Regions from separate parts of the Homo sapiens genome. Here all the other regions are reported to be linked to region 1. The links are microRNA targets in miRTarBase. Many come from high-throughput screens and were not tested one by one. Region 1 holds a microRNA gene; each other region holds the end of a gene's coding sequence.
The links. Region 1 holds the annotated microRNA hsa-miR-5194 (UGAGGGGUUUGGAAUGGGAUGG, at 2,625-2,646, opposite strand). A microRNA usually pairs through its seed, bases 2 to 8, with sites in the 3' UTR of a target mRNA and lowers its output. Matches are read on the target gene's strand: a 7mer-m8 pairs with bases 2 to 8, a 7mer-A1 pairs with bases 2 to 7 and ends in A, and an 8mer does both.

Region 2: the mRNA of MAFG is a reported target of hsa-miR-5194. Seed matches in the 3' UTR shown: 7mer-A1 at 3,586-3,592, 7mer-m8 at 3,190-3,196 and 7mer-A1 at 2,176-2,182.
Region 3: miRTarBase lists APEX1 as a target of hsa-miR-5194. Seed matches in the 3' UTR shown: 7mer-A1 at 6,165-6,171.
Region 4: the mRNA of GPRC5A is a reported target of hsa-miR-5194. Seed matches in the 3' UTR shown: 7mer-m8 at 1,306-1,312, 7mer-A1 at 1,791-1,797 and 7mer-m8 at 3,921-3,927.

What each region holds. Positions count from the first base shown.
Region 1 is chr8:130,005,736-130,012,849 of GRCh38, forward strand. MIR5194 (microRNA 5194) reads right to left here and starts at 2,718; the gene lies at 2,599-2,718. The region is part of intron 1 of CYRIB (CYFIP related Rac1 interactor B); the gene reads right to left. LOC124902025 (a long non-coding RNA gene) reads right to left here and starts at 5,585. Exons shown (of 2, transcript XR_007061113.1): 1 at 4,921-5,585.
Region 2 is chr17:81,916,595-81,923,708 of GRCh38, forward strand. MAFG (MAF bZIP transcription factor G) reads right to left here. Exons shown (of 3, transcript NM_002359.4): 2 at 6,556-6,620; 3 at 1,676-6,463. The coding sequence starts at 6,591. The coding sequence ends at 6,011. SIRT7 (sirtuin 7) reads right to left here and starts at 1,582. Exons shown (of 10, transcript NM_016538.3): 1 at 1,445-1,582; 2 at 1,236-1,373; 3 at 1,021-1,125. The coding sequence starts at 1,537. It overlaps MAFG-AS1 (MAFG antisense RNA 1), which reads left to right and starts at 6,305. Exons shown (of 3, transcript NR_186500.1): 1 at 6,305-6,638. RefSeq lists enhancers at 767-1,663, 1,782-1,831, 6,315-7,114 and a silencer at 1,182-1,651.
Region 3 is chr14:20,456,603-20,463,716 of GRCh38, reverse strand. It overlaps APEX1 (apurinic/apyrimidinic endodeoxyribonuclease 1), which reads right to left. Exons shown (of 5, transcript NM_001641.4): 4 at 6,857-7,049; 5 at 5,950-6,726. The coding sequence ends at 6,209. It overlaps PIP4P1 (phosphatidylinositol-4,5-bisphosphate 4-phosphatase 1), which reads left to right and starts at 2,283. Exons shown (of 7, transcript NM_144568.4): 1 at 2,283-2,533; 2 at 2,872-3,062; 3 at 3,419-3,525; 4 at 3,984-4,089; 5 at 4,277-4,329; 6 at 4,421-4,511; 7 at 5,015-6,036. The coding sequence starts at 2,392. The coding sequence ends at 5,158. RefSeq lists enhancers at 1,619-1,698, 1,031-1,996, 1,999-2,068, 1,997-2,963 and silencers at 2,189-2,598, 2,659-2,828, 6,333-6,627.
Region 4 is chr12:12,912,019-12,919,126 of GRCh38, forward strand. It overlaps GPRC5A (G protein-coupled receptor class C group 5 member A), which reads left to right. Exons shown (of 4, transcript NM_003979.4): 3 at 66-124; 4 at 429-5,919. The coding sequence ends at 521. It overlaps MIR614 (microRNA 614), which reads left to right and starts at 3,811; the gene lies at 3,811-3,900.

The DNA of each region.
Region 1 (7,114 bases):
GAGAGGCTGAGGCAGGAGGATCACTTGAGCTCAAGAGTTCAAGATCAACCTGGGTAACACAGTGAGACCTCATCTCTTAAAAAAAAAAAAAAAAATGTAAAGGCTGGAAAAGATGGGACTAGGTGATCTCCACTGTCCTTTCCATCTCACACCAGCCACCCCACGCCCAACACCCTCAGAATAGATGACAACGGGCAGATTACCCTTAACAGATATTTCTCTAACCCAGTGACAGGGACCTCTGCATCAGAATCACTTAGAATGCTCATTAAAAATATGACTCCAGGCTGGGCGCGGTAGCTCATGCCTGTAATCCCAGCACTTTGGGAGGCCAAGGCAGGCAGATCACTTGAGGTCAGGAGCTTGAGACTCACCTGGCCAACATGGTAAAATACTGTCTCTATTAAAAATACAAAAATTAGCCGGGCATGGTGGTCCACACCTGTGATTCCAGCTACTCAGGAGGCTGAGGTATGAGAATCGCTTGAACCCAGGAAGCGGAGGTTGCAGTGAGCCGAGATCACGCCGCTGTACTCCAGCTTGGGTGACAAAGTGACACTCTGTCTCAAAAGAAAAAAAGAAGAAAAAGAATCTGGCTTGCCGGGTACAGTGGTGTGCACCTATAGTCCCATCTACTTGGGGGGCTGAAGTGGGAGGATCACTTGAACCCAGGAGAGTGAGTCCAGCTTGAGCAACGTAGCAAGACTCTCATCTCAAAAAATAAAATAAAATAAAATAAAATAAAATATATATATATTTATTTATTTGGGAGGCCGAGGCAGGTGGATCACCTGAGGTCAGGAGTTCGAGATCAGCCTGGCCAACATGGTAAAACCCCGTCTCTACTAAAAACACAAATTATATATATATACATATATATGTGTATATATATACATATATATGTGTATATATATACATATATATATGTATATATATATGTATATATATACACACATATATCTGGAACCTCCCACCCAGGAAGTGTAAGCACACCCAAGGTATGAGCAGATTAAAGAAATCCTGCAGAAGGGGGAACACATGCATAGAGTATGCTGGCAAGGTCACATATAGAAAATGGGTGGGGGGACTTGAAAGCAGAGGTATAAATCCTATGTGCACCTTATTTGCTCAAGTCTACATGGACCAGCATCCAAACATTGAAATTTTCCTTTCAAATTCAATCCCCCAGAGTGTATGGTCTCAGGACCCTTCTTTCCCCCAAATCTTTTCTAGTGGGGATGCATGTATGCAGACAATGCAAAGTGCTACAAATCGCAACACCAAATGCATCAAGAGGTAGATTATTAGTATGAGTCAGTTTCACACTAACTTTACCAAAAACCTCACTGCTCACATTAGCTCAAGTAATCTACTTACAACCACAATTATAAATTCTGAGCTTCCTTGGCTGACGAGTTTGCAGTAGGTGGTTCTTGGCCCTGAGGGCTGCTGAGATGCCCGCCGTTATGAGATGCCCACTGAGAAAACCACCGCCCTCTCCCAGCAGGGTCCAGCAGGAGCAGTGTCTGCTCTCGGCTACACAACTCCATTCATAGACTTTTCCAGTTACGTTTGAGGTTCACCCAAAGGAGGTAGTAAAAACAGGAGGTGGGCACTGAAGCTGGCCTGGTATGTTTGAATTCCAGCTCTGCTTTTTATCAGCCTCCAGGTTTTCTCAGTTTCCTCATCTGTAAAACGGGAATAATATTACCTGCCTCACAGAGTTACCATGAAAGTAAGAAATAAAATATTCAAAGTATATGACATGGCTGGGCGCAGTGGCTCACGCCTGTAATCCCAGCACTTTGGGAGGCCGAGGCAGGTGGATCGCCTGAGGTCAGGAGTTCGAGACCAGCCTGCCCAACATGGTGAAACCCTGTCGCTACTAAAAATACAACATTAGCTGGGCGTGGTGGCACAGGCCTATAATCCCAGCTACTTTGGAGGCTAAGGCAGGAGAATTGCTTGAACCTGGGAGACGGAGGTTGCGCTGAGCCGAGATTGCACCATTGCACTCCAGCCTGGGCAACAAGAGCGAAACTCCATCTCCAAAAACAGCAACAACAACAAAGTACAGGACACTTGCTCCATGCTCCATAAAAGAAAGTTAATATTGCCATAAAGGAGACCAAAAAAATCACAGAAACCCACGACGTGATCCTGATGGGAGCCCTGTTAAGAGGGGCTTCCAGGCCAGGCATGGTGGCTCACGCCTGTAATCCCAGCACTTTAGGAGGCCGAGGCGGCCAGATCATCTGAGGTCAGGTGTTCAAGACTGGCCTGTCCAACATGGTGAAACTCCATCTCTACTAAAAGTACAAAAATTAGCCAGGTATGGTTGCGGGCGCCTGTAGTCCCAGCTACTCGGGAGGCTGAGGCAGGAGAATTGCTTGAACCCGGGAGGTGGAGGTTGCAGTGAGCCGAGATCGTGCCACTGCACTCCAGCCTGGGTGACAGAGCGAGACTCTGTCTCTAAATAAATAAATAAATAGAGGGGCTTTCTGCCAGGTCCATAGCTGCCTGCACACATAGTCCAGAAATGTGACCTCACTCCCTAGCTCCTGCTCCACTCGCCACCATCAACCTGCTGGCCTGTCATTCATGGTGTCTGGTGACTCTCCCTGCCATCCCATTCCAAACCCCTCAGAAAAGCTTATCCAATTCCTGAGTGAAAAGAATGGGCCTAGAAGGGCTGAGTTTAAGTTAACCCAAAGAAATAAACCCAAACTCCTTCATTCTCCAAGCTGTTCAGGCCTCAGGGACATGTGTGGGGTGACTGTGGGGCACACACTATCATTCCCCATGTGGATCCATCACGGGGCCTAGCACACAGGAGGTGCACACTCAGTGACTGTTCTGTTGTTGAATGGCAGGATGAATCTCACTCCTCCCTCAAGACCTGAAAACTTGAGAGTTATGAAGGCATGTTTAGGAATGACTGTAAAATACCACTTTTCAGAAAACACAGAAATCTCCATTTGATTCTTTCATTTGCAAGCCTGTTTGATCTGTCTACACACTGGTTGGTCTCTCGTGTCCCAGAAGCAGAGGGCAAGACACAAAACCAGAGTTCAGGGGAGCAAAGCAGACATTTTAGGAAGTTATTGCCCAAGTTTCACTTCCACGTCGTCTTCTGCATTCTACTTCAACTCTGGTTTTGAGCAAAGCTGGGGCTGGTGAAGAAACTTCCCTTAGTCTACATGTTCCTCTCCCTGAGTCCCAGCACTGAGGCTCTGTAGACCAGGGACTCAAATTACTGAGCACTCACTGATGCTAGACCCTATGTCAGGCATATTCAGACATCTTCTGACCTAAGAGCCACAACAAGCTGGAAAACAGACACTGAGATGCCAAGAGAGGTTATGCAATGTGCAAAAGACTTCACAGTCAGGGAGTCGGGTCTGAATCAAAGATCTCCTTGGCTCCAAGGTCCTTGCTTCTCAACCTGCCACTGTCCTTTTTCAAAGGCGCCAACCACTAACATGGCAAAGTGTTTCATTTTTCATAAAGCCATCTGAGGAGTTCAAAAGCATCTTTTTTTTTTTTTTTGAGACAGAGTTTCCCTCTTGTCACCCAGGCTGGAGTGCAATGGCACAATTTTGGCTCATTGCAACCTCTGCCTCCCAGGTTCAAGCAATTCTCCTGCCTCAGCCTCCCGAGTAGCTGGGATTACAGGTGCCAGCCAACACGCCCAGCTAATTTTTGTATTTTTAGTAGAAACAGGGTTTCACCATGTTGGCCAGGCTGGTCTTGAACTCCTGACCTCAGGTGATCCACCCGCCTCGGCCTTCCAAAGTGCTGGGATTACAGGTGTGAGCCACTGCGCCCGGCCCAAAAGCATCATGAAAAACTGTCCCCCTGCATTAAATTCAGATCCCATCTCTGCCAGAAGGATAGCCCTGGACAAATCATACAGCTCTCACCCACCTGTGACTATGCCCCATGGGAGAAGGACGTGTATATGGAGGCTTTCTGCTAGACTATGCTAGATGCTTTGATACACATTATCCCACTCAATCCTCCAAACATTCCAGGGAAGCAGGTGATAGTAGCCCAGCTTCATCAATGACAATTCTGGTTCTGCAGTGGGATGTGATTTGCCCAAGGTCATGCAGCGCTGAGAAGCAGGCCCAGGGCTCCATCAGCCCTGCCATGCAATAGGCTTTGTTGAGTGAGCACTGGATGTAAATTCCAAAGAGCTTAAAGCGGCCAGACAGAGCCAGTGACAGGAGACTCTATTAGGCAGATGAGGAAAGAATGGAGCTTTTCTTCCTCCTACCGCCCAAGCCTTTCCCATCCTTAACTCCTCTGCACAACGGGGCCCTCACTGTCCTTCCCCCACCTTCTTATCAAAGGATGCTGGTGCTGGGAGGGGGAAAAGACAGAAAGAGGATTAGTCTCTGGCATGGTTTATGTTGATTTCAAAGCTGTCACTTTTCCCACATTGGGCCTTCTTTTTCACTGTGGATTTAAGTGCCTAGTCCCCTGATGAACGAAGGTCAAGGGCAGAGGTACATTTTGAACTAGAGAAAGTCCTCAGCATCCTCCTGCTCTCACAGCCTTACTGCTAAACACAGCAGTGGATGCAGAGGGTGGCACTGTGGAGCGGTGAGCAAAAACCAGGCTCAGGAGCCAGAGGCCTAGGTTCCAGTCCTGACTGTGCCTCTTGGTCAAGATGCTTCCCCCCAGGAGGTCCCAGTTCCCTTGTGTGTTAAAATTAGAGTACTGGATGCTTAGGCCTGAAACTCTGAGTATGGGGTTTCTGCTCAGTCCTTCAGCTCACACTGCCTCTCCTCCCCCGCTCCCTGAAGGCAGCCCCATCTCAATGGCTCACAGCATCTAGGCCCTCCTGGGCTTATTCAGCACCTGCTGGCAGACAGAGGTGGTCTCTCTCCCACCCCTTCCTGCTCCCACTGTCACCTGTCCTGAGGTCCATCCTAGGCCTTTGTCACTTTGTCATATGTGTGTTTTCGCATGCATGCCTCCTCCTCTAAGCTAACTTGGAAACCTCCAGGGTCATGTAGAGATTTGCACCATCAGCATCAGCCTGGCTCCTGAATGAATGAAGGGGAGAGGGTCAGGTTGGATGATCTCCTGGCCCACTGCACTCAAAGTATGGTCTACAATCCAGAGGCATCGCATCATGTGCAAAAGTGTTCAAAATGCAGCATCTCACCCTGCCCCAGCCCCTGCTCAGAACCTCCGAGGCAATCCCCACGTGATGCGCAGCACACTCAAGTTTGGAAAGTTCTCTTCCAACTCCTCCCTCCCTTGCTTCTACCACCTAGAAGCCTCCGGAACTATGGCCTTAGCAGGTCTCACTAAAACATAGCCCATCATTAACCAAAAGAGATCTGCCTTAGGAACCTTCTAGAAGCCCGCCACTGACTCTCACAAGCAGAATCTGAAATGTGTGCTCCCCGGGGGGACTCCTGGCACACATTACTCAGTGGCCCTCTCCGACCCTCAAGGAAGCCCAGGAAGCTTTCAAGAACGCTGAGGCGGCCAGGCGTAATGGCTCATGCCTGTAATCCCAGCACATTGGGAGGCTGAGGTGGGTAGATCACCTGAGGTCAGGAGTTCGAGACCGGCCTGGCCAATATGGGGAAACCCTGTCTCTACTAAAAATACAAAAATTAGCCTGGTGTGGTGGTACGCGCCTGTAATCCCAGCTACTCGGGAGGCTGGGGCAGGAGAATCGCTTGAACCCGGGAGGCAGAGGTTGCGGTGAGCTGAGATCATGCCATTGCACTCTAACCTGGGCAACAAAGCAAGACTCCATCTCAAAAAATAAAAATTAGGCTGGGCATGGTGGCTCACGCCTGTAATCCCAGCACGTTGGGAGGCCGAGGCGGGCGGATCACAAGGTCAGCAGATTGAGACCATCCTAGCAAACACGGTAAAACCCCATCTCTACTAAAAATACAAAAAAAAAAGAAAGAAAGAAATTAGCCAGGCATGGTGGCGGGTGCCTGTAGTCCCAGCTACTCGGGAGGCTGAGGCAGAAGAATGGCATGAATCCGGGAGGCGGAGCTTGCAGTGAGCCGAGATCGCACCACTGCACTCCAGCCTGGGCGACAGAGCGAGACTCCATCTCAAAACTAAAAATAAAAATAAAAATAATTAAAAAAAAAAAGAACGCTGAGGCCTGGCAGAGTCAGACAGACTGGCTGCCCACTCACCCACACGGATCCCATGTCCACGTTCAGAAAGCTCTCTTCCCTCATTTCTCTACTCTTGACATTTATTCAGCTTGTAAAGAAAAGGATCCTTTCCAAAACACGTCTTCAGTTTTTTAATAAACCCCGCAATTCCTTTAATGATTTCAGATTATCTTAAATATTTATAAAAATCACTCTCAGCAACACTTCTTTAAGCAAACCTCCTCATCAACTTCGATTATTTATATATTTATGAACACGATGTTCAAGGAGCAGATGGCAGCTAGTAAGTCCTCCAAAAGAAGGAAAAAAAAAATCAATGGGACAGAATGTAAGCTCCATGACTCGTCCATGTACTCTTCTCGACAAGCTCTGGTACAATTATCTTTCCATTCAGCGGAAGCGCCACACAAAAGTCCACAATTGGTTTAAAATAGCACACTTGGACTTCATAAAGCTTGGAGGCTCCAAGTTTAATCCAGGAATGACCTGCCAGCCAAGGGCTCTATTCCCAAAGGAAACTGAAGCTCTGTCAGGGGAGGGTAAGACATTGGATGCAGGGACAGATGATGGGACCAGGGGAGGGACAGAAAGAGCACCAGGGGCTGAGGGAAGAAACAGACATTGCTGAGCACCTCTAGGTGCCATGCTCTCTGCTGGGCACTTTCCATACAACCTCTGGGTTGATCGTCACAGCAACACTTCCAGGTGGCGACTGTTAGTCCTCATTTGAAAGATGAAGAGAAAGACAAAGAGAAAGGAAGTATCTTGGCCAAGGGCACAGAGCTAGTGAGTGGCAGAGCCAGGATGTGAACCCAGGCTGTAGGGCCCCAAAACCTTCACTGCCTCTAGAAAGAGAAAAGGAGGAGAGGAAAAAAAAAATATTGCTCTCAACCTCATGCATCCTAGGCTAACAAAGTTGCCTTTCTTTCAGCCTGGTGAGGCCAATCACC
Region 2 (7,114 bases), not on the chromosome of region 1:
TAGCTGGGATTGCAGGTGCCCGCCACCATGCCCGACTAATTTTTGTATTTTTAGTAGAGACAGGGTTTCACCGTGTTGGCCAGGTTGTTCTTGAACTACTGACCTCATGATCCGCCCACCTCGGCCTCCCAAAGTGCTAGGATTATAGGCATGAGCCACCGCGCCCAGCATGACTGGACTTTTACATGTGACTTGTGGAGGGAGGAGACTAAACCCCAGGGCTCCGGGTATTTGAGTCAGTAGTGAACTCCCTTTTTGCATTCTTGCTGCTGAGCCTCTGCTGTTCTTTGCTTGGAGTGCCTCATTCCAACCTTCTGTAAATCTCACCCATCCTTCAAGGCCCAATCAAGGCCACCTCCCACAAAAAGCCAACGCAGGTGGGTTTCCCAACTCCAAGAGCGCAGAGTGTGTGTCTGAGTTTGCTCTAGCGACCCAGCACAGCCAGCTTTACAGTATGGTTATTTGTTCACATGCCTGATCCTTGTCACCTAAAAGCTTCCTGAGAACAGAAATCACCTGGGTTCAGATCTGCTAGGCCGACGCGTGCCCAACACCCCACACACACCCATCAAATTAGATGGACGAGGTGCCAGCTACACTTTCAAAGCTAGTGATGTCCCACAGCCCAGGATAACTTGTCAGTGAAACTTCTCAAAACACAATGCAATTCTCTCCTTCACCTGGTGTATTCTGGCTCTTACTGTGTCACTTTCTACTTATCTTCCCTCGACATGGACAGAACAGAGTGGAAAATCACAACTTTGGGCTTAGCTCTGTCCACATAACCTGGGGGTGCCTGCGAGCAGTCGGCTACTACACCCCATTCGTATCTCTACTCCTTGTTTTTTTTAACTGGCTGTAACACAGAGGCCAAGCGTTTAAAAAGCGTTTACCTTAGGTAAGTTTTGGTCATTTCGTTTCTTTAAGAGAAAAAACCTTAGAGCTGCTTTAAAGGCGAGTTTTTCGCGATTACTGGAGCTCATACTCCGTCCTGGGGTACGCCTCCGCCTCCCTCCCTACCGTGCTGATTCCCGCGCCTGTGTAGACGACCAAGTATTTGGCGTTCCGGACGGCGCTGGCCAGCTCCCGGACCTTCCCCCGCAGCTCCTCCGGGTCGTCGCACACCTGCCAAGACGCCAGGGTGGTCACCGCCCCGGGCCGCCCCACCCGGGACCGCCCGTCGCCCCAGCTGCTCCCGAAACCGGGGGCGCCCGCGCGCCGCACGCGGAACTCGCCTCCTCCTGCCGCCGCTTCAGGCCCTCGCGCCGCCGGCTCCGGCCCTGCAGCTCCGTTACCAGGTCCGCGCTCTCGGCCAGCAGCCGGCCCTCCTCGGCGCTGCGCTCCGCCGCCGCCTTCCTCAGGATGCGCGACACCTGCGGGCAGGCGGACGGTGAGCGGCGGCGCGGGCCGGGCATGGCCGGGCCGGGGAGCGGCGGCGGCGTACCTGGCGGAGGCGCTCCCTCTGCTGCTCCTCCCGCAACCTCCGGACCCGCTCCGCCGCTTTGCGCTCGGAGCGGCTCAGACCCCCGGCTGCCATCGCTCCCCTGGAGACCTGCTCTTCCGCTTCCGCCTCACACGGCAGGCCGCGCTCAGGGCGCATGCGCAAGATGGGCCCCGCCCCCACCCACCCCTTCCGGCTCCGCCCGCCGCGTCGCCCCAAAGAAGCACCTGCCAGTCTCTTTAAAAGGTTTATTGATCATATACAAAATAAAGAAAACCTTATATATCACAAACATACACTATGTACAGCAATAAATACCCGGGGGGCCAGGCCCAGTGCTGCCCCTCCTGGACAATAATTTAGCAATAAATACTGCGCAGGGCAGGGGTAGGGCACCAAGGCCACTGCCCTGCAAGAGGTCAGGCCCCTGCCCGCCCTACACGAAGTGTGAGCGCTCGGGCCTCACCCCGCATCCAAACCCCAGCCCCTCCTCACTTAGATCTTTAATAACCTCCATCCCACCCCAGCAGATCCCGGGGTCTTCTCCCACACACACAACCTCCCCTGGCTAGACCTAGGCAGGGCAGGCAGGGACTGATCAACTCTGCTTGGACCCACCTCTCAGCGCCAGGAGAGCAACAGGGCTGGACACGCGGGCAGCCCTTGTCCTGTTGCCAGGAGAAGGCTTTCTGTGCCCACTCCCGTTTGGTTAAAGGCTTCAGGGACTAGCAGATTGAGGGGGTGGGAAGAAGGGCAGGGCTGGGACACAAGGTTGCTGGAGGGGCCAAAGCCCAACTGGGGTCACCAAGAACAGGGAGGTCTCACAGTTTATCGGGGACACACTCTAGCTCAGACTCAAGGGACACCCATGGTATCAAAGCTGCTGCTCCAGGGGCAGGGTGGAAATGTGTGGGACTGGCCCAGCAGGTATGGTACACACCCAGGACACAGGCCAGAGGCAGGACAGGCATTAGTCTCTCAGACACGCCCTGCCTCTGTGTGGCACTGATTATGTACTCTACTCTCCCGACCTGCTCCAAGGCCAGACAGCCAACAGGAAGGCAAAAATACACCAAAAAGAATTATTCAGTGGCTTCTGGGGGAAAAATCGTTAATGTGTTGGTTCCTTTCACCAAACCACAGCCTAAAAAAGTAACTCACAAGATCCCAGAGCGGAAACGGTGCAGCAGGCTGCGGCTCCGACTTTCCAGATGTGGATGGGCGCTTTGGCCAAGTGGCCACTCCAGAGGGAGGCAGCAGGGACAACATGGGACCTGACCATCGTCCCAAAGCAGGCTGCAGCCGCTCAGGGCCGTGGGCCGGGCCCTGATCACCAGTCAGAAGTGTACACACATATCTGAAACATGCACCAAGAGCTGAGCCAGCAACACCAGTGCCACCCCGAGCAGCAGCCAGGGGCCTCACTCTCCTGGTGAGAGCTGACCTGTCCCTGCTGGGTATTCCTCTGAAATCTGAGCGTCCATGTTAGGATAAAAGAGGAGTTGGGGCAAAGTTAAGGTGGAAGGGAAGACATATATCATGGTTTACTTGGCGGACAAGTTTGAGAGACCTGGCCTTGGCCAAAGCCCTCGATTCGCTGTGTCAGAAAAACTGAGGTGAGAAGAGACCACCACCCTCTCCACCACCCTCTCAGTAGGAAAGCGGGATCAACAGAGATCAGAAGGACAGCACACTCACACCTGCACATGAACACACCATCTATGTCAGGAAATCCAGGGGAAGGGGAAGAGGGGTGGAGTGGCTCCGCAGGGCTGACCTGACAGGGGACAGGAACACTCCCCTAGACCCAGGGAAGTCGCCCCAAATCCAAAGCTCTTGAAAGGAGGTATGGCCTCGAAACTCCAGAAGCCTCTTCTGCCAACGCACCGAGGACCTGCACCTCCCATTCAGCACGCGTCGACCCTTACACCCTCCTCTTCCACACTCCCTTCGCCTCCAGGTCTGCAGCCTGGCAGAGGTGCTCAAAATGGATGGCCACCCACAGCCAGGACAAAAGTGGGGGCTGCACAAGGACAAGGAGGGCCTGTTTCTCCCCACTCCGAGGCAGATCATGACGTTTTCTTCATGGATACTTATGATATGATTCCAACTAACGCCTGGATTCTACTTAGACAAGATCAGACTGAGGGGAGGGGGATGAAGTCACTAAATGACAAGAGTCAACAGCCAATATTTCCATTTTCAGGCTGACGCAGGTAGACACAGGACTTGTCTCTGAACACCTCGAGCAAAGAAAAGCTCATTAACATGACAAGTGTTGATGGTGCCTCCCTGTTCCCATCCTGTGGGCACACCAGGCCAAACTATTGGATAAAAATCCCACCATCCATAGGGTTAAGCCCTGTTGGGCCACAGTTTTTCATCTTACCCACATCTGTGTGCTTTACAGAAGTCTGGGCCCCACAGAAAAGAAACCAGCAACCCGGTGAAAGGCCAGGGCTCACATGGCCAGACACAGGGCTGTAGCCTCTTGGAGGTGGGTAGGGGCACCCCCTCCCCATCATATGCCTACAAGGAGCCTCCTGAGCCCAGCCAGGAAGGGCAGCAGCCTCTGGCGAGGAACTGAGAGCAGGAGGCAGGCTGCGCCCCCACAGGGAGGCACCTCCAGCAGAAGCCAAGCAGCTGATCCCTGGAAGACACAGATCCCAAAGGGAGGCAGAAGGCAGGCCCGAAGCCAAGAGCTGCCAGCGTGGACCAGCGGAGAAGAGGGACAAGACCCGGCCCTGGAGACTGTAGCCCTTGTCTGCACTGGTGGAGACCCCCAAGGCTCTCAGAGTGAGGCAGGGACAAGGAAGAAAGGGCGGTGCCCGGTGGGCCCCCACCCACTCTGCCTGGAAGCACCACCCGCAGCATGGAAACACCTCAGGGATCAAGCGGGCGGCGAGACCTGCAGCCCACGGCGCGGGCAGCCTATAGGAACAAAGCTGAGGCCAGAGGAAGACGGCCAGGGAACGCTTGGCCATAGCCCTGTGGCCACCCACAGTGACTCCCTCATCCCTGTAATGCCACCACCCAAGGCCAGAGGTGGTGGGTGTGGAAGCAGCGTGGGGCGCCCCAAGGGACCCCAGTTTCACCTACCCCGCCACTAGATCAGCCCAAGCCCTAGACACAGATGTAGCCAAGGCTCAGTGGAGGGGGGCATGACAGAACCCCATGTCTCACCTCCTACGGACCAGGAGCTGGTGGTGGGCACAGATTCCTTGAGCTCTGACGCAGCAGGCGCCACTTGGCACCCCAGCCCAGGTCCAGCAAGCCAGCAGAAGCAAAAGCACAACTAAACCCAAAAAACGAACACGGGAAAACAGACACAAGAAGTGACACCCACAGGTCAAAGGTCACCAGAAGCACCAGCACTTTACCGCTGCACAAAACCTCACCAGGCACGGACGACACCACGGCACCGGCAAGAGACGGAAGCAGGAAGGGCAGAGGAGTAAGTCACTTTCGGTACAATTGCAAAAGATATCAAAGAGGACGGCCTTCTGGTCGGCTCACGGCTTGGCTTTTTTTTTTTTGTCTTTTTTTTAAACTAAGTTTTATAAATAATGTCTGATAACTCTGTGTATATAAAAACTAAACTCCAACAGCCACAAAGAGGTGTCCGTAAGTTTACAAGAAAGGGATTTTTTTTCTTTTTTTTTCTTTTTTTTTTAACTAGCAAAGTTTCTATTATACTTTCTTCCCTTTTCCATTCATATGGTCAAATGGTCTTCTTGCTTGTTTTTTTTCTAAAAGACAGTTTTATAAATACTCTGCAGCTCTTTTTTCTTTAACTTTTAAACATATAATTAATTTAATAACTTTGTAAAAGGAACTTCTCTCTTTTAAATAAAGGGCTATATAACCACACAAATAGGTCATGTAAACAGTGACACGGGACCCATCGCAGGGCACACTGGACCCACCCTCACGTTAAGCGCACAACCAGAGATTTGGTCTTGTTCAGTGCAACGGGTCAGGCCTGAGTGCACAGCCCCTGGGCCCAGCTGCACGCCCCCAGCACCACTGCGCCCAGGCTGGTGGTCCACCCATCAGGGCCTTCAAGCCCGCCCTACTCTCAGAGCAGAGCCCATCTCTTCATGCTGGGCTAAGCTGAGCTGCTCCCCTGGGGCTAAAGAGAGTGAATCCTTCCCAGCCCGCGAGCCTGTGGCCACTCGGGAGTGGAGGGAACACTGGGACCCTCACTGCTCGGGGACACGCGAGGCCCAGCGTGCCTGCTCCTTCTCTCTCCCGCAACTCTCTCTAGTCCGTTCCCACAGCACCAACTCTGGACTCCAAGCCTGCATGGCCCTGGTACAAAAGGGGTTGGGGCGACCCCACGTCACCGCCGAACTGACCAATCCCAACATACAAAACACACGACGACAATGACGAGATCAAAGGGGCTCAGCCCGGCGCCCCTGGGGTACAGGTTGTGCTTTGCAGGGAAGAGAGAAGGGTGGGGAAGAGAGGGAGGAAAGAGAAGAGAAGGAAACAGAGGGACAGGGCAGCCAAATTCGCCATGTGCCTAGTGGCCCCGCAAAGACCCGCCTGGGCAGACGCGCGTCCCTACGATCGGGCATCCGTCTTGGACTTTACTATTGTGATGACGCTGGTGGCGGCCACCTTGCCTGGGACGAGGGGCCCCAGGCCGGCGGCAAGGGGGCCCCGGGCTGGCGCCACGGGGCTGCGGGCCACCGTCCGGGCGAAGGTCTGCAGCGCCTCGTACTTGGAGCGCAGCGCGTCGAGCTCCAGCTTCATGCTGGCGTTCTCTGAGGCCAGCTTCTCCACCTCCTGCTGCAGCTCCGCCTTCTGCTTCTCCAGCTCCTCCTTCTGCGTCACCCGCTTCACGCGGCAGCTGGCAGCGTAGCCGCGGTTCTTGAGCGTGCGCCGGCGCTGCTTCAGCTGGACGATCTCCTCCTTGGACAGGCCCCGCAGGTGCTGGTTCAGCTCCCGCACCGACATGGTCACCAGCTCCTCATCCGTCAGGCTGGTGCCATTCTCACCCGGCTCCCGCTTCACCTGGGGCACAGTGCAGGTGGTCACAGGCCAAGCGGGCACGCCCACTGTGCCCCCCGACCCCAGCCCACAGGCTCCTGTCCCTGCCCACTCACCTTCAAGGCCTTGTTTCCTTTATTGGGGGTCGTCATAACCCGGGGGCACAGCGAGCAGGCGCTCTCTGCAAGACACGGAGCAGGTCAGTACCCTGGAGACCACCCTCGCCGCACCCCCCCCCCCCCGCCCCCGGCCCAGTTCACAAGAGCCCTTGCCGCACAGCCCGCCCCAGCCTGCTGTCCAGGTGCCCAGCCCCCAATACCTGATAGGAGGCAGCCCTTGGCCTCTCCCAGGCTGGGCTGAGCTGCTTCCTGTCCACCCTGCCCCTAGAGAACCAGGTGGGAGGTCAGGAAGGTCTGACGGGAGAAGGGGAACTGAAGGCTGTTAGGAAGGCAGGCGCAAGACAAGGGGCAGGGGAGAGATTAGAAGGAATAAGACGCGGGAGAGGCAGGCCTAGAAGGAAGCCGGGAGCTTTAAAAATAACCCCGGCACTGCCCAGAGCGCGGCTGTTCCTGGCGAGTCACGCTGACTCAGCACATTGCCTCTGCCTCCCCGCCGCGCCCGCACTCCCTGGCCCGCCAGCCAACAGCGCCCCACGAGAGCCGCAGCCCCCAGCCT
Region 3 (7,114 bases), not on the chromosome of region 1:
CTGGCGACAGAGTGAGACTCTGTCTCAAAAAAAAAAATGCTTTATTAACTGTGAGCAAGTTCCAAATATTATGATTACTTTTTGCATTTTTCTGCCTATTGATCTACTCAACAACACAGAGCTCAGATCCTAGTTATCCATGCACAATACTCATTTTTCTTTATGTTTTAGAAGTTTTCTCTGGCTGCTCTAGCTAGAAGTGATCTCTTCTTTTCTTGAACTTGAATTACATTGTTTAATTCTTTTATTATGAAGCATGTGCTGTATCATGAATTTCTAGTATTGATATTTTTCCATGTAATAAAATACTAGTGCTGATTTTCTTTTTTTTTTTTTTTTTTTTGAGACACGATCTTGCTCTGTTGCCCAGGTTTAGATCATGGCTCATTGTAACCTTGAACTCCTGGGCTCAAGCAATCCTCCACCTCAGCCTCCCAAAACACCGGGATTACAGGCATGAGCCACCACTCCTGACCTGATATGTTATACTGTCAATGTTTACACTATTCTGTCTCCCTACCCAGAGTGTAAGCTTTTTTAAGGAGTGTCTTTCACAAAGTGTAGATATTTAAAAAATATTTTTAGGACAGTTTTTGGAATATATGTGTAACTAGGGCGCAAATAATGGATCCTACTCCAACCCCAGACAATGCTTGAGCATCTGTGTGCCACAAACAGCAGAAAAAGCAGCAGACTGGCCTCCCTCTATGGAGCTACAACCTCTTCCCTATTTTGTATCTGGAGCTTCCTTAGTTCTTTAAGTGTCTGTTAGGGGCTCTTATCTAACTGGTCGAAGGTTACTAGCTTCCAAGTAGAAGTTGGCCTGAGAAAACCCTGTCTAAAAAAATCAGGACCTAGGTGAAGTCTCCAGCCCCTGTAGCAGCCAAGTGCTGGGACATCTGCAGTTCCTTTGTTATTACATATTTGGGGCTGGCTGTACTTTCTTTGATGCACTTCCTTTCTTAGTGGAGAGTCTGCTAGCCAAACTGATAATGGACCTCCTCGGGGTTTATTGTTTTTATCAATTCCTTGTTGCTTCCCATATTTAAAGCAGTCCCAGTTTGGGCTATGACTTGGGAAAAAATCCAGGTGTGGTTCAGGCGCCCATAAAGACCACACGAGACTTCAGGTAGGGGAGGAGGCACTGCCCCTTTGCTGGAAGCAAAGTTGAGACAGGCCTAAAGACTGTCCCATCTGTCAAATAAGGTGACGAAAATAACCTTGTATTTGATTAATCCAATCTACAAACTTGTGCGTATGTTAAAGGTTGGTGGTCATAAAACTGAGTAAAGGCACGGTGGCTTGTCCCTGTAGTCCCAGCTACTGGGAAGGCTTAGGCAGGAGATCAAACTCAGGAGTTTGAGTCCAGCATAGGCAAGACCCCATCTCTATTGAATTTTTTTTTTTTTTTTTTTAGTAAAACGATGAAATCTTCTAGTAGTGGAGACACTAATGAAAAGATAATTTAACAATTTGATCAGCAATGGGGAAAGACGGGGCTCTGTAAGGACAGCTTCCAGGAAAACCCAGTCTTGTGTCCTGTCCTGAAAGTGACTCTAGCGACAAAGGCTGGAGTGATAATCTTAACTTTTTAATCCATTTCCTTCTGGTACCTCATTACTCTGACTTTTTAAAGGTACTTCTTTGAGTAGAACAGCTAACTTTGTCTACTGTTCCCCACCGTCCATTTTCTCCCCGCTCAGAAGATCCCAAGCTTCCGCACTCCTTTATTGCACCCGCCCAGCCTCCTTTAAAATGCATAAGCCACGCCCCCCATGTTCTGGCGCTAAGTTCGGGCCAATGCAGTTGCGCCGCTAGGATCACAGGACGAAAGAAGTAAAGTCACCAGCCAATAGGAAACCAGCTACAACGCAAAGCCGGAGAAAAGTGTTTTAGTGGTGTCTTTGAACCAATGAGGAGCAGAGCAACAGGGACCGTGCAGCTTCCAGAAACACGTGACCAGTTGAGCAGACGCAGCCTAGCCCTACCTCCTGGTCTGGAGGTAGCGCGATGGGCGTCGCTCCCAATAGCTTGCAGAACCTCTAGTCACGTGCAGGTTTTGCAAGCCCAGCAGCATCTGGCAGGTCATGTGACAGTTGACGTTTGTGCGTCGCTCCCCAATGGAAAAGGAGAGCTGCCTTCACAGGACCAGGAATTGGTTTATCTACGCGAATAATAGCATGACCCGGGCGGGGATAGCCTATCACGTGCTGCTAGACGGAACGGGGCGGGGCAGGCCACTGGTTGCGGAGTGAGCTGGGCGCGCGGCGCGCAGGCGCCCTGGGGACCCGGTAGCGGCGGTGGCGGTGGCGGCGGTGGCGGTGGCTGCGGCGACGGCAGAGGCGAAGGGAGCCGGATCGCCGACCTGAGCGGGAGGCGGCGGTGGCGGCCATGGCGGCAGATGGAGAGCGTTCCCCGCTGCTGTCTGAGCCCATCGACGGTGGCGCGGGCGGCAACGGTTTAGTGGGGCCCGGCGGGAGTGGGGCTGGGCCCGGGGGAGGCCTGACCCCCTCCGCACCACCGTACGGAGCCGGTAAACATGCCCCGCCCCAGGGTAAGCCGGGGCGGGTCCGAGGTGCTCCCCGGGGTACTCTGAAAGCCGGGGAGGGGGCGGGACCGAGGGCGGAGGCGGGTCCCAGTCGCCAGGTGCGGGACTGCTGCACCTGTGACTGGGCGAGGCTTCCTTCCCTCCGTAATCGCGACCACAGCCTAGGGACGGAAGGGGGTTCTGAGCAACCTGATAGAAGTGCCAATTATGAGAAGCCCTCCGAGCTTGGTCAGAGGGTTGAAGATCAGAAGGACTTCCCTACCACCGTGGAGCATCAGTGGGGGTGTAAGTGATCCCAGCCCTTCTATTTGCTTCCTCTCCAGCATTTCCCCCGTTTCCCGAGGGGCATCCAGCCGTGTTGCCTGGGGAGGACCCACCCCCCTATTCACCCTTAACTAGCCCGGACAGTGGGAGTGCCCCTATGATCACCTGCCGAGTCTGCCAATCTCTCATCAACGTGGAAGGCAAGATGCATCAGCATGTAGTCAAATGTGGTGTCTGCAATGAAGCCACCGTGAGTTACACATATCTATGAAATGGGCCCTGTTTCCTGGATCCTCTTTCTGATGTCTTGGTTCTAGACCCTGACCTTCCGGCTATTAGCCAAGTGCTTTTGATGATACCCAGGTTTCAGTTCCAGGTGTCTCACACAGCCATTTCCCCAGAAGCCACTCACCAAAGCTAATGTTCACTTTCTCTCACTTTTACACCTAGCCTAGTTCCTATTTGCAAATCTCATGATATAGTCTTTCTTTTATTTCTCCTTCCTGGTTAGCACCTTATTTTTCTGATCTCATAAAGTGTTTTTGGAGGGAAGTGGAGGGGATTGGGATTAGAGGTTTGCTTGCTGATGACCCTATTATTCTCTAGCCAATCAAGAATGCACCCCCAGGGAAAAAATATGTTCGATGCCCCTGTAACTGTCTCCTTATCTGCAAAGTGACATCCCAACGGATTGCATGCCCTCGGCCCTACTGGTAAGAGGCATAAGGTGGGGAAGGGCCTAAGTGGGGAACTGGAAAGTCAAAAAAGGATGAGCGTATACAGAGAATGTAAAGGTGAGAGAGCCTAGTGTTTATTTAGGAGAAAAGGCTTTGAAGCATGTGCCTCAGGAATGTTATAGCTGTCTTTCTCGTTTCTCAATAAAAATATTGAGATGAAATGATGTCGTTTCGGAGAATAGAGAGCCTTGGGGACTGGGTGTGTTATCCTGAGGTCGGAGGGGAATTGGGGACCTGAAGTTTAAACAGTGCTCTTTCTTTCTCAAGGATTCTTGAGGGTATACAGTTGGGGGACAGAGTATCTTAAGTACAGAGAAGTCGAGTGACTTAATAGACAGGGAGTGGGGGATGTGGAACAGGGACTGTGAAGATTTTTAGGATTAAAAATTTTTCAAACACAAGTTTGAAAATACAAGTCTTTTTCTTTTGTATAGCAAAAGAATCATCAACCTGGGGCCTGTGCATCCCGGACCTCTGAGTCCAGAACCCCAACCCATGGGTGTCAGGGTTATCTGTGGACATTGCAAGAATACTTTTCTGGTGAGGAAGGGGTATTGGGAAGGGGAGGGGAAAGGAGACTAAGAGTCATTTCGAGTATATTTCTTAGAGTAATGGTAATGACCCCTGAAAGGTCTGTCCTATGGGAACATGTTCTGCATCCCCACCCCAAGGTTCTCATTGAGGGAGACCCTGCTTGTGCTATTATTTTTGTTTTCTTTCTCCATAGTGGACAGAGTTCACAGACCGCACTTTGGCACGTTGTCCTCACTGCAGGAAAGTGTAAGTGATTAGGGATTGAGCTGGTAATTGATGTATGGAGTAAAAACTACAAGGCCATAGAAAGCATCCATTTCTATTTGCCTCCCCACAGGTCATCTATTGGGCGCAGATACCCACGTAAGAGATGTATCTGCTGCTTCTTGCTTGGCTTGCTTTTGGCAGTCACTGCCACTGGCCTTGCCGTGAGTACCCTTGCCCCAACCTCTTTCATTCTGCAGCCTCATCTCCATAGGCTAAGATTTGGGAAACTGCTACCCTAAAAAAAAGTGGAAGAAACTTGGGGGACTAGTTTGTTTTGTTTTAAGATATGGATGAGCTAAAGTGCAAAGTGGCTGATCAAACAGACTTTATTACTACTACAAGAGTGAAAAACAGCCTTCCTTTCTCTGTAGGATGAGGATAGGACAGTGAAATTCTTAATTTAAGAGTTGCTATTTTTCAAACCTGGCTCAGTTGTCAGATATTAAGAAAAACTGAGATACAGTGTGGGATGGGATGAGTATGTTACGCCTAAGGGAAGGAAGCTGATCAGCTCTGCCTTTAAGAAGGTCCCTGAGGGTGGCTACATGTGGATAAGGAACAAGGACTGAAGCGTGAGTTATTACTGTTCTTAGAACTAATAGGAGGTAGTGGAGACCAACATTAACCCCATCTTTCTTTTCTTCTCCCTCCTTATCTTCATCAGTTTGGCACATGGAAGCATGCACGGCGATATGGAGGCATCTATGCAGCCTGGGCATTTGTCATCCTGTTGGCTGTGCTGTGTTTGGGCCGGGCTCTTTATTGGGCCTGTATGAAGGTCAGCCACCCTGTCCAGAACTTCTCCTGAGCCTGATGACCCACAGACTGTGCCTGGCCCCTCCCTGGTGGGGACAGTGACACTACGAAGGGAGCTGGGGTAGTTAAAGGCTCCCGGGGCTTCTAGAAGGAAGCCAAGCAGCTGCCTTCCTTTTCCCTGGGGAGAGGTAGGAAGGAACCAGGCCCTCACTTAGGTTTGGAGGGGCAGATAAGAGCACTGCTGACCATCTGCTTTCCTCCAAGGGTTGCTGTGTCTAGGGTGAAGTAGGCAAAACGTTGCCCTTAAAACTGGGCCCTGAAGACGGTTCCAGCCTTGTCCTTCCTGTGTGCTCCCTGAGAGCCATTCCTGTCCCTTACACATTCCAGGGCAGGGTGGGGGTGGGTAGCCCTGGGGGTTCCCCTCCCTCTTGTGCACCATTAGGACTTTGCTGCTGCTATTGCACTTCACCAGAGGTTGGCTCTGGCCTCAGTACCCTCAGTCTCCTCTCCCCACATTGTGTCCTGTGGGGGTGGGGTCAGCCGCTGCTCTGTACAGAACCACAGGAACTGATGTGTATATAACTATTTAATGTGGGATATGTTCCCCTATTCCTGTATTTCCCTTAATTCCTCCTCCCGACCTTTTTTACCCCCCCAGTTGCAGTATTTAACTGGGCTGGGTAGGGTTGCTCAGTCTTTGGGGGAGGTTAGGGACTTATCCTGTGCTTGTAAATAAATAAGGTCATGACTCTACGCTTTTTCAGTTGTTAACTTGTGTGCATGAAAATATGAGGAAGAGAATGTGTAGCCCCACGAAGGGGTAAGACACGAAGACAGCAAGGCTGAAACTATGGCTCTTTATTTTCATGTGGATAATTCAAACAAAGTCATTAGTAGTCTTTGTTCAATTTTTTTTTAAAAAACAAAAAACCCTCAAATAAAAAATCTTGGGCTTAAAAGAACTCTATCACAGGAGCCTGGTTGGAGGATTCCTAGTTTTATACATGAGAAATAGAATGCAGATTTCTCTGAAGAGTGTTTAAAGAAGGAATGGTAGTTGAGGGGGCTTATTTCCCAGGCTCAAAGTGATTTAGGGGTGGTGTCACAGTGCTAGGTATAGGGTGATAGGACAGTGATCACTGCCGAGGGCCTTGGAACGGATCTTGCTGTCACACAATGCAGGTAACAGAGAGTGGGACAACAAAAAGTAATCAAGGCGCCAACCAACATTCTTGGATCGAGCATTCATCATATAAGTCCAAAAGGTGTAGGCATAGGGTGTGTTGGGGTAGAGGTGCCTAAAGCTGTCAGCCAGTGGCACAGCCTGCAGTAATTCCCCGAAGCCTTGGCGCTCTTGTGGCGTGAAGCCAGCATTCTTTTTGTTCCCCTTGGGGTTGCGAAGGTCAATTTCTTCATGTGCCACATTGAGGTCTCCACACAGCACAAGGGGCTTTCGGGAAGCCAGGCCCTTCAGGAACTTGCGAAAGGCTTCATCCCAGCGCTGCCGGTACTCCAGTCGTACCAGACCTCGGCCTGCATTAGGTACATATGCTGTTACCAGCACAAACGAGTCAAATTCAGCCACAATCACCCGGCCTTCCTGATCATGCTCCTCATCGCCTATAGAAATGAAACAGAATTAGCATAAAAAACTATAAGAAAAGGGAAAGCAATCAAGAGGTGGGGCAGAGATAGAGAATTAGCAATTGGTTTTGAAGAGTTCAGGCATTAGGCATCAATAGGGTCTCACCTATGCCGTAAGAAACTTTGAGTGGGCACTGGCGGGAAAGCAGGCCCACGCCACTGTACCCTTCCTTGTCCGAAGGAGCTGACCAGTATTGATGAGAGAGTCCAGGCAGCTCCTGAAGTTCAGCTGGTAGTTTGTTCTCTGAACATTTGGTCTCTTGAAGGCACAGTATATCTGGGGCTTCTTCCTTTACCCACTGTAAGTGAAAAGAAAGGTGGAAAACGTATTATCAATTCAGCAGAACATTTATTGAATAATCTA
Region 4 (7,108 bases), not on the chromosome of region 1:
GATACAATGGGGTGAACATAGGTGGGGGCCCCAGTGGTTTAATTTCTCCTGTTCCTCCATTTCAGGTTTTGAAGAGACAGGGGACACGCTCTATGCCCCCTATTCCACACATTTTCAGCTGCAGGTAAGTGATTTTTTTCTCCCTCTTCATCAAAGGCATTAGCACCTCAGGAACACTGATCCTTTGGAAACAGACGATGTTACCTTTCTCATGGCCCCTAGATGGCCACTTGAAGGAATGATGGGTCTTCTTTCCTCTAAGCGGCCTCACGGGGTTAGTGGGTAAGAATGAGTGCTTGGCATAGAGAGGACTTGGGGGTGGGAGGCCTGGGAGAAAGGGAAGGAAATGAGACTTCTGCCCAGACTGGAGACCTGTTGAAATGGCAGGAACTGGAGTGGGTTTCACGATATGACTGTTTCCTTTTCAGAACCAGCCTCCCCAAAAGGAATTCTCCATCCCACGGGCCCACGCTTGGCCGAGCCCTTACAAAGACTATGAAGTAAAGAAAGAGGGCAGCTAACTCTGTCCTGAAGAGTGGGACAAATGCAGCCGGGCGGCAGATCTAGCGGGAGCTCAAAGGGATGTGGGCGAAATCTTGAGTCTTCTGAGAAAACTGTACAAGACACTACGGGAACAGTTTGCCTCCCTCCCAGCCTCAACCACAATTCTTCCATGCTGGGGCTGATGTGGGCTAGTAAGACTCCAGTTCTTAGAGGCGCTGTAGTATTTTTTTTTTTTTGTCTCATCCTTTGGATACTTCTTTTAAGTGGGAGTCTCAGGCAACTCAAGTTTAGACCCTTACTCTTTTTGTTTGTTTTTTGAAACAGGATCTTGCTCTGTCACCCAGGCTTGAGTGCAGTGGTGCGATCACAGCCCAGTGCAGCCTCGACCACCTGTGCTCAAGCAATCCTCCCATCTCCATCTCCCAAAGTGCTGGGATGACAGGCGTGAGCCACAGCTCCCAGCCTAGGCCCTTAATCTTGCTGTTATTTTCCATGGACTAAAGGTCTGGTCATCTGAGCTCACGCTGGCTCACACAGCTCTAGGGGCCTGCTCCTCTAACTCACAGTGGGTTTTGTGAGGCTCTGTGGCCCAGAGCAGACCTGCATATCTGAGCAAAAATAGCAAAAGCCTCTCTCAGCCCACTGGCCTGAATCTACACTGGAAGCCAACTTGCTGGCACCCCCGCTCCCCAACCCTTCTTGCCTGGGTAGGAGAGGCTAAAGATCACCCTAAATTTACTCATCTCTCTAGTGCTGCCTCACATTGGGCCTCAGCAGCTCCCCAGCACCAATTCACAGGTCACCCCTCTCTTCTTGCACTGTCCCCAAACTTGCTGTCAATTCCGAGATCTAATCTCCCCCTACGCTCTGCCAGGAATTCTTTCAGACCTCACTAGCACAAGCCCGGTTGCTCCTTGTCAGGAGAATTTGTAGATCATTCTCACTTCAAATTCCTGGGGCTGATACTTCTCTCATCTTGCACCCCAACCTCTGTAAATAGATTTACCGCATTTACGGCTGCATTCTGTAAGTGGGCATGGTCTCCTAATGGAGGAGTGTTCATTGTATAATAAGTTATTCACCTGAGTATGCAATAAAGATGTGGTGGCCACTCTTTCATGGTGGTGGCAGCAGTTACCAGTAATGAGCATTAGACTCTGGGGGATAGAACACGGGCTGCCCTGAGAGCTTCATGTTGGAGCTGAAGTTCAAGGTTCACTTCCTTTGGGTTTGTACTTGACCCTTCTTCATGTGTCTCTCCCGTTCCCTCTAAAACAAGTGTGTTTCCCCTCATTTTTGAGGCTGTCAATGGTGTGAGAGCCAGGATCATCACGGGGCCTGAGGTTTTACTCCAGAAAAGCAGAGGAGTGGCAACCTTGGCTTGGGGTTTGGCAGCCCAGGAAAGGCAGGGAGGAGAGCTCAAAGCCGGTTTCATGTTTCACCCAAGGTCTAATTGTGGGAGAGGACAAATCCAGATCCCCTGTTTGACAGAATTAGTTCACAAATGTCTCTTGGCAAAAACATGTGACACCTAACCATGATAATTGACTTAATCCAAGAAAGAGCTCTGTAGGGCAGAGCAATAGGAAATCTCTCTTTCGTTATGGAAAAAAAATAATCCCTCTACATAGAAACTGAGTGACATGTAAAAATGTGTAGCTAAGTCAGGGAGTTACTTCCTAAGAGCCTGACGCTCTGCTTTTCATCAAAAGGAAAAACCAGCGTGAGGCAGAGGCGAGGGAGGTGGAGGTGAGTGGATGATGTGCTGAGTTAGGGATGTTTATATGCCGCAAAGGTTTGGTTGGTAGGCTTCGCGCTAAGATTAGCCTGGCTTTGTACTGAAAAGGGGGAAGGACACATAGTGACACAGATCCTTCTGGTCTTTCCCAGGAGGTGTGACCTAATGAGGTTTGTTGTGAGAATAAAGCAATGTGGTTTCACATATATTATCTATCATAGGCTAGGGACTCAAGAAATGCATATTCCCCCCCCACTTTCTTTCTCTCTTTCCTTCCTTCCTTCCTTTCTTCTTTCTTTCTTTCTTTCTTTCTTTCTTTCTTTCTTTCTTTCTTTCTCTCTCTCTCTCTCTCTCTCTTTCTTTCTTTCTTTTTGAGATAGAGTCTCACTCTGTCATCCAGGCTGGAGTGCAGTGGCATGATCTCAGCTCACTGCAGCCTCCGCATCCTGGGTTCAAGCGATTTTCGTGCCTCGGCCTTCTGAGTAGCTGGGATTACAGGCGTGCGTGCGCCACCACGCCTGGCTAATTTTTGTATTTTTAGTACAGACGAGGTTTCACCATGTTGACCAGGCTGGTCTTGAACTCCTGATCTTAAGTGATCTGCCCGCCTTGGCCTCCCAAAGTGCTGGGATTACGGGTGGGAATCACCATGCCCAGCCTCCTTTCCATCTTTTCTTTCCTTCTCTGGTCTTCATACTACCAACCAAGCAAGGGAGGAGGAGTAAAAGGTAAAATCACAAAATACTCTGGATCGGCATTTTTTTTTTTTTTTTTTTTTGAGACAGGGTCTAGCTCTATGGCCCAGGCTGGAGTGCAGTGGCACAATCATAGCTCACTGCAGCCTCAACTTTCTGTGCTCGAGTGATTCTCCTGCCTCAGTCTCCTGAGTAGCTGGGACCACAGACGTGCACTACCACACTTGGCTAATTTTATTTTTTCAGAGATCACATGTGGTTTGAGGGAGGATAGAGAGGACAGGGTGTCAAGAACAGCATTTTTACCAAGTTGATATAAAAATGAAACAGGATCCAGGCATGGGTCTTTACACTGATAGTTACAGTAAGTTTTAAAATCTGAGCAGCAATTTGAATCACTTGTTGAAAAACACACAAAATATATTTTTTGTAGAGGTGGGGGTCTTGCTCTGTTGCCCAGGCTGGTCTTGAACTCGAGATTCTCCTGCTTTGGCCTCCCACAAGTGCTGGGATTACAGGCGTGAGCTACTGCACCCGGCCTGCTTTCTTTTTAGTGAAAAGGATCTGTGGGAGCTTTTATTCCCATGGCTGCCTTCCTCAAGTCAACCTCTTTCCCCGGAAATGGCATCATCTCTGGACTGTTGTTTCTCCTTCTTCCTTCTCCTCCTTCTCCTCCTCCTCCTCCTCCACCATGCCCGGCTGATTTTTGTATTTTTAGTAGAGACAGGGTTTCACTATATGGGCCAGGCAGATCTCGAACTCCAAACCTCGTGATCCACCTACCTTGGCCTCTGAAAGTGCTGGGATACCGTGGCCTCTGAAAGTGCTGGGATTACAGGCATGAGCCACCGCGCCCGGCCCCGTTGTTTCCCTTCTAAGAAACGCAGTGGTCTCTGAAGCCTGCAGGGGCAGGCCAGCCCTGCACTGAACGCCTGTTCTTGCCAGGTGGCAGAAGGTTGCTGCTCATTTGAGCAGTACCTGTCACCCCTCCTCCCACTGCTGCGGCTGTTAACTCATCTTCAGGTCTCACACCTTCTGCACATAAATAAGCTATTTTTAAAAGTTATTATTTTTTTACTCTTTCTTTTCTTTGGAGAGGGTACCAAAGGATAGCTGTTCTGTTTAAGTAGGGACCTCTCATGGCCTACAGGCTTTGACATCTGAGAATCAAACTGGAGAACATTCCGAAGCCGTTCTTATAAGTGTCTCCATCTCTACCTGGGCTGAAATGGAATGTGCAAATGTAGCCCAGCCTGGTCCTTGGGTGTTGCCAGTTGATTGATGACTGGGAGCCAAAGTGGCATCTCCTTTGACCTAAACGGGCGATGATGAAATAAAACTCAACAGCCTTTCTCTCATCTTGCATTGTGAGATGCGAAATAGAGCGTGTCTCTCTGCCTCTCATTTTAGGCTGAGGCCGTCCAAAGCGGCCATGCCCCATGTTTCCACTAGATGGCGCTGACACTTCAGGCATCAACCCTCATGGCCTCTCAGCCTTGCAAAGGCAGCCACTTAAAGTCGGTGTCCTGTGTGGGGCACCAAGCTGAGCTGCAGACACCCAGTAGGCGCGAGGCAAATGCGTCCCATTTTAAGAGGCTTGTATTTATGAGCTCTTTGCTTCCTCCCTCCCACTAACTTTAAAGAATTGCTCTCCATCTCCTTTGGCAAAGTTCCTTTGCCCTTTGTCTTATTTTTGTGAAACCCTCCAAGGTATTTCCAGTCCATTTGCATCCAATCTGGCATCTTTACGGAGAGCGGTCTCATATGCTATTGTTGTTAACGTGGACTAGTATTTATGTGTTGAGAACACTGGCTGTTTGTCAGGAAAAGTGTGCCAAAACAAAGAGTACGGCCGGCCCTGGAAATGCATCAGCAAAACCCATTTCCCCCGTGCACTCATTCTGAGCTTCCTTCCTTCATTTCTGTCATTACTGCTGAGAACTGGACTGTGCCCAGCTGACCTTTCCCTTCCTTGCCCTCATCTTGCTGCCAGGGTCTGCAGGTTTGCCACCGTCCCGGCCCCAGTCTGAAACATGGGATTATTTCAGAATTGGAGGTGGCAGCTTCAGAAAAAAATCCTTCTCGTGTGTTGACTGCTGAGATCCAGGAACTGGGAAATCAACCCCCAGTTTGTAGATTGCTCTCTTTGGAAATTCTGTGGCCCAACCTCGTGGCTGTTTTCTGGAATTCCTTCTATCGGGGCAGACAGTGCTGTGCCTTTCTTGACTTCAGGATGTTCCAAGGATGCTGCTGGATCTGTGTGTGTGTGTGTGTGTGTGTGTGTGTGTGTGTGTGTGCGTGCGTGCGTGTATGTGCGCCTGACCCTGATTTCTGCAACCTCCAGATTTCTTTCTTGACCCTTCAAAGTGGAACAGTCCAGTGCCAAAAATTTTAGAGTTTGAGAAGGTCACAGAAATCCTCTAGTTGGTGCCTCCACAGTCTTCATTTTACAGAGGAACTCAGGGCTAATGGAGTTAATGCAACTAGATCAGGGTTTTGGGTCTGTGTTCTTTCTACCGTCAGCACCTGTGTGGTCAATTCTGGACACTTCCCAGAGAAGTCTTTGAGTAGAGAATCCTACTCAAATTTCACTGTATATTTTAAGCATTCCTCTCCTTTCCCTTTGCCTCCCCTGTTGCCTTTTCTTCCCCTGATTTCTCCTCTGGTCATCTCCTCTCCCTTCTGCGTGTAAGCCATGGGAAAGGGATGAGGGAGGACAGCTTCTGGTTAAACACAGGTCCCTCTTCCACATCAAATGAACATTGGCTTCCTGGGACAGAAGGCCTTCAAAGGAGGGATTGCAAAGCAAGGCAAAGCGTTCTGTCTTCATTTTCCCCATCCCCATGAGACAAGACTGATGGAAAGGGTGGTGGGGCAACACTGCTTAATGGATGCCTTTTCACATCATTTCAGTTTTTAGCCCTCATGACTGTATTTTCTAATCAGAGACAATAACATTTTAAATAAAACAACGACAAAGAAGTCTGAGTCAGGTGGTAAAATTTGTTGTTTTCAAGCACCATCTTTTGATATACTTGGTTTCATATCATAATGTATTCAAGGTTTCAACCGGTTCTTACATGCTCCCCTTTACTGAGATTTTCTTTTTCTAAAAAAAAAATTTAAAAAATTTTAAAAGTAATTTTTTTTTCTTTTGGGATAGGGTCTTTCTCTGTCACTCAGCCTGGAGTGCAGTGGTGCGATCACGGCTCACTGTAGTCTCGACATCCTGGGCTCAGGTGGTCCTCTTGCCTCGGCCTTCTGAGTACTGGCTGGGACCACAGGTGCACACCACCACACATGGTTAATTAAAAAAAAATTGTAGAGGCAGGGTCTCCCTATGTTGCCCAGGCTGGTCTTGTACTCCTGGGCTCAAGTGATCCTCCTCCCTCCGCCTCCCAAAGTGCTGGAATTGCAAGCATGAGCCACCATGCCCAGCCTGAGATTTTATTTTCCATTCATCTTTTGACTCATCTCAGAATTGACCAGATTCAGCCACTCTTACAAGAAAGCTCAGGATCCAGTAAACAGTTAATTCTTTATTTTTATTATTATTTTTAAGACAGGGTCTTGCTTTGTCGCCTAGGCTGGAGTGTAGTGCTGTGATCTCAGCTCACTGCAACCTGCATTTCCTGAGCTCAAGCGATCCTCCCACTCTGCCTCCTAAGTAGCTGGGACTAGAGGCGTGCGCCACCACGCTTGGCTAATTTTTGAAATTTTTTTTTTTGTAGAGATGGGGTCTCACTATATTGCCCAGGCTGGTCTTGAACTCCTGGGCTCAAGCAATCCTCCCACTGTGGCCTCTCAAAGTGTTGGGATTGCAGGTGTGAGCCACCATGCCCCCAACCAACAGTGAATTCCTATTCACTTGTTTGTGTTATTGATTCCTTCAACTTCCCTGAGGCCCATAGTGAGCCAAAAACCCACACCCATCCCCCTTCTTTCTCTTTGCATGGAATTCTGGCTCCCTTCAGGGAGTAAGTGCCACACCTGGAAGAGCCCTCCCTCCCCGTGCAGCTTCTGAGAGCAGGTGCAGAGGTAGTCCTTGGAGATCCGTGCAGACAACTTGTGTTTGTAATGACTCAGCCAAGATGTTTGTCCCGAGCCCAGTGATTCAATCCAAGTCCAATCCAATCGTGGTCTTCAGCAGAAAAGAAATGACATGTTAGTG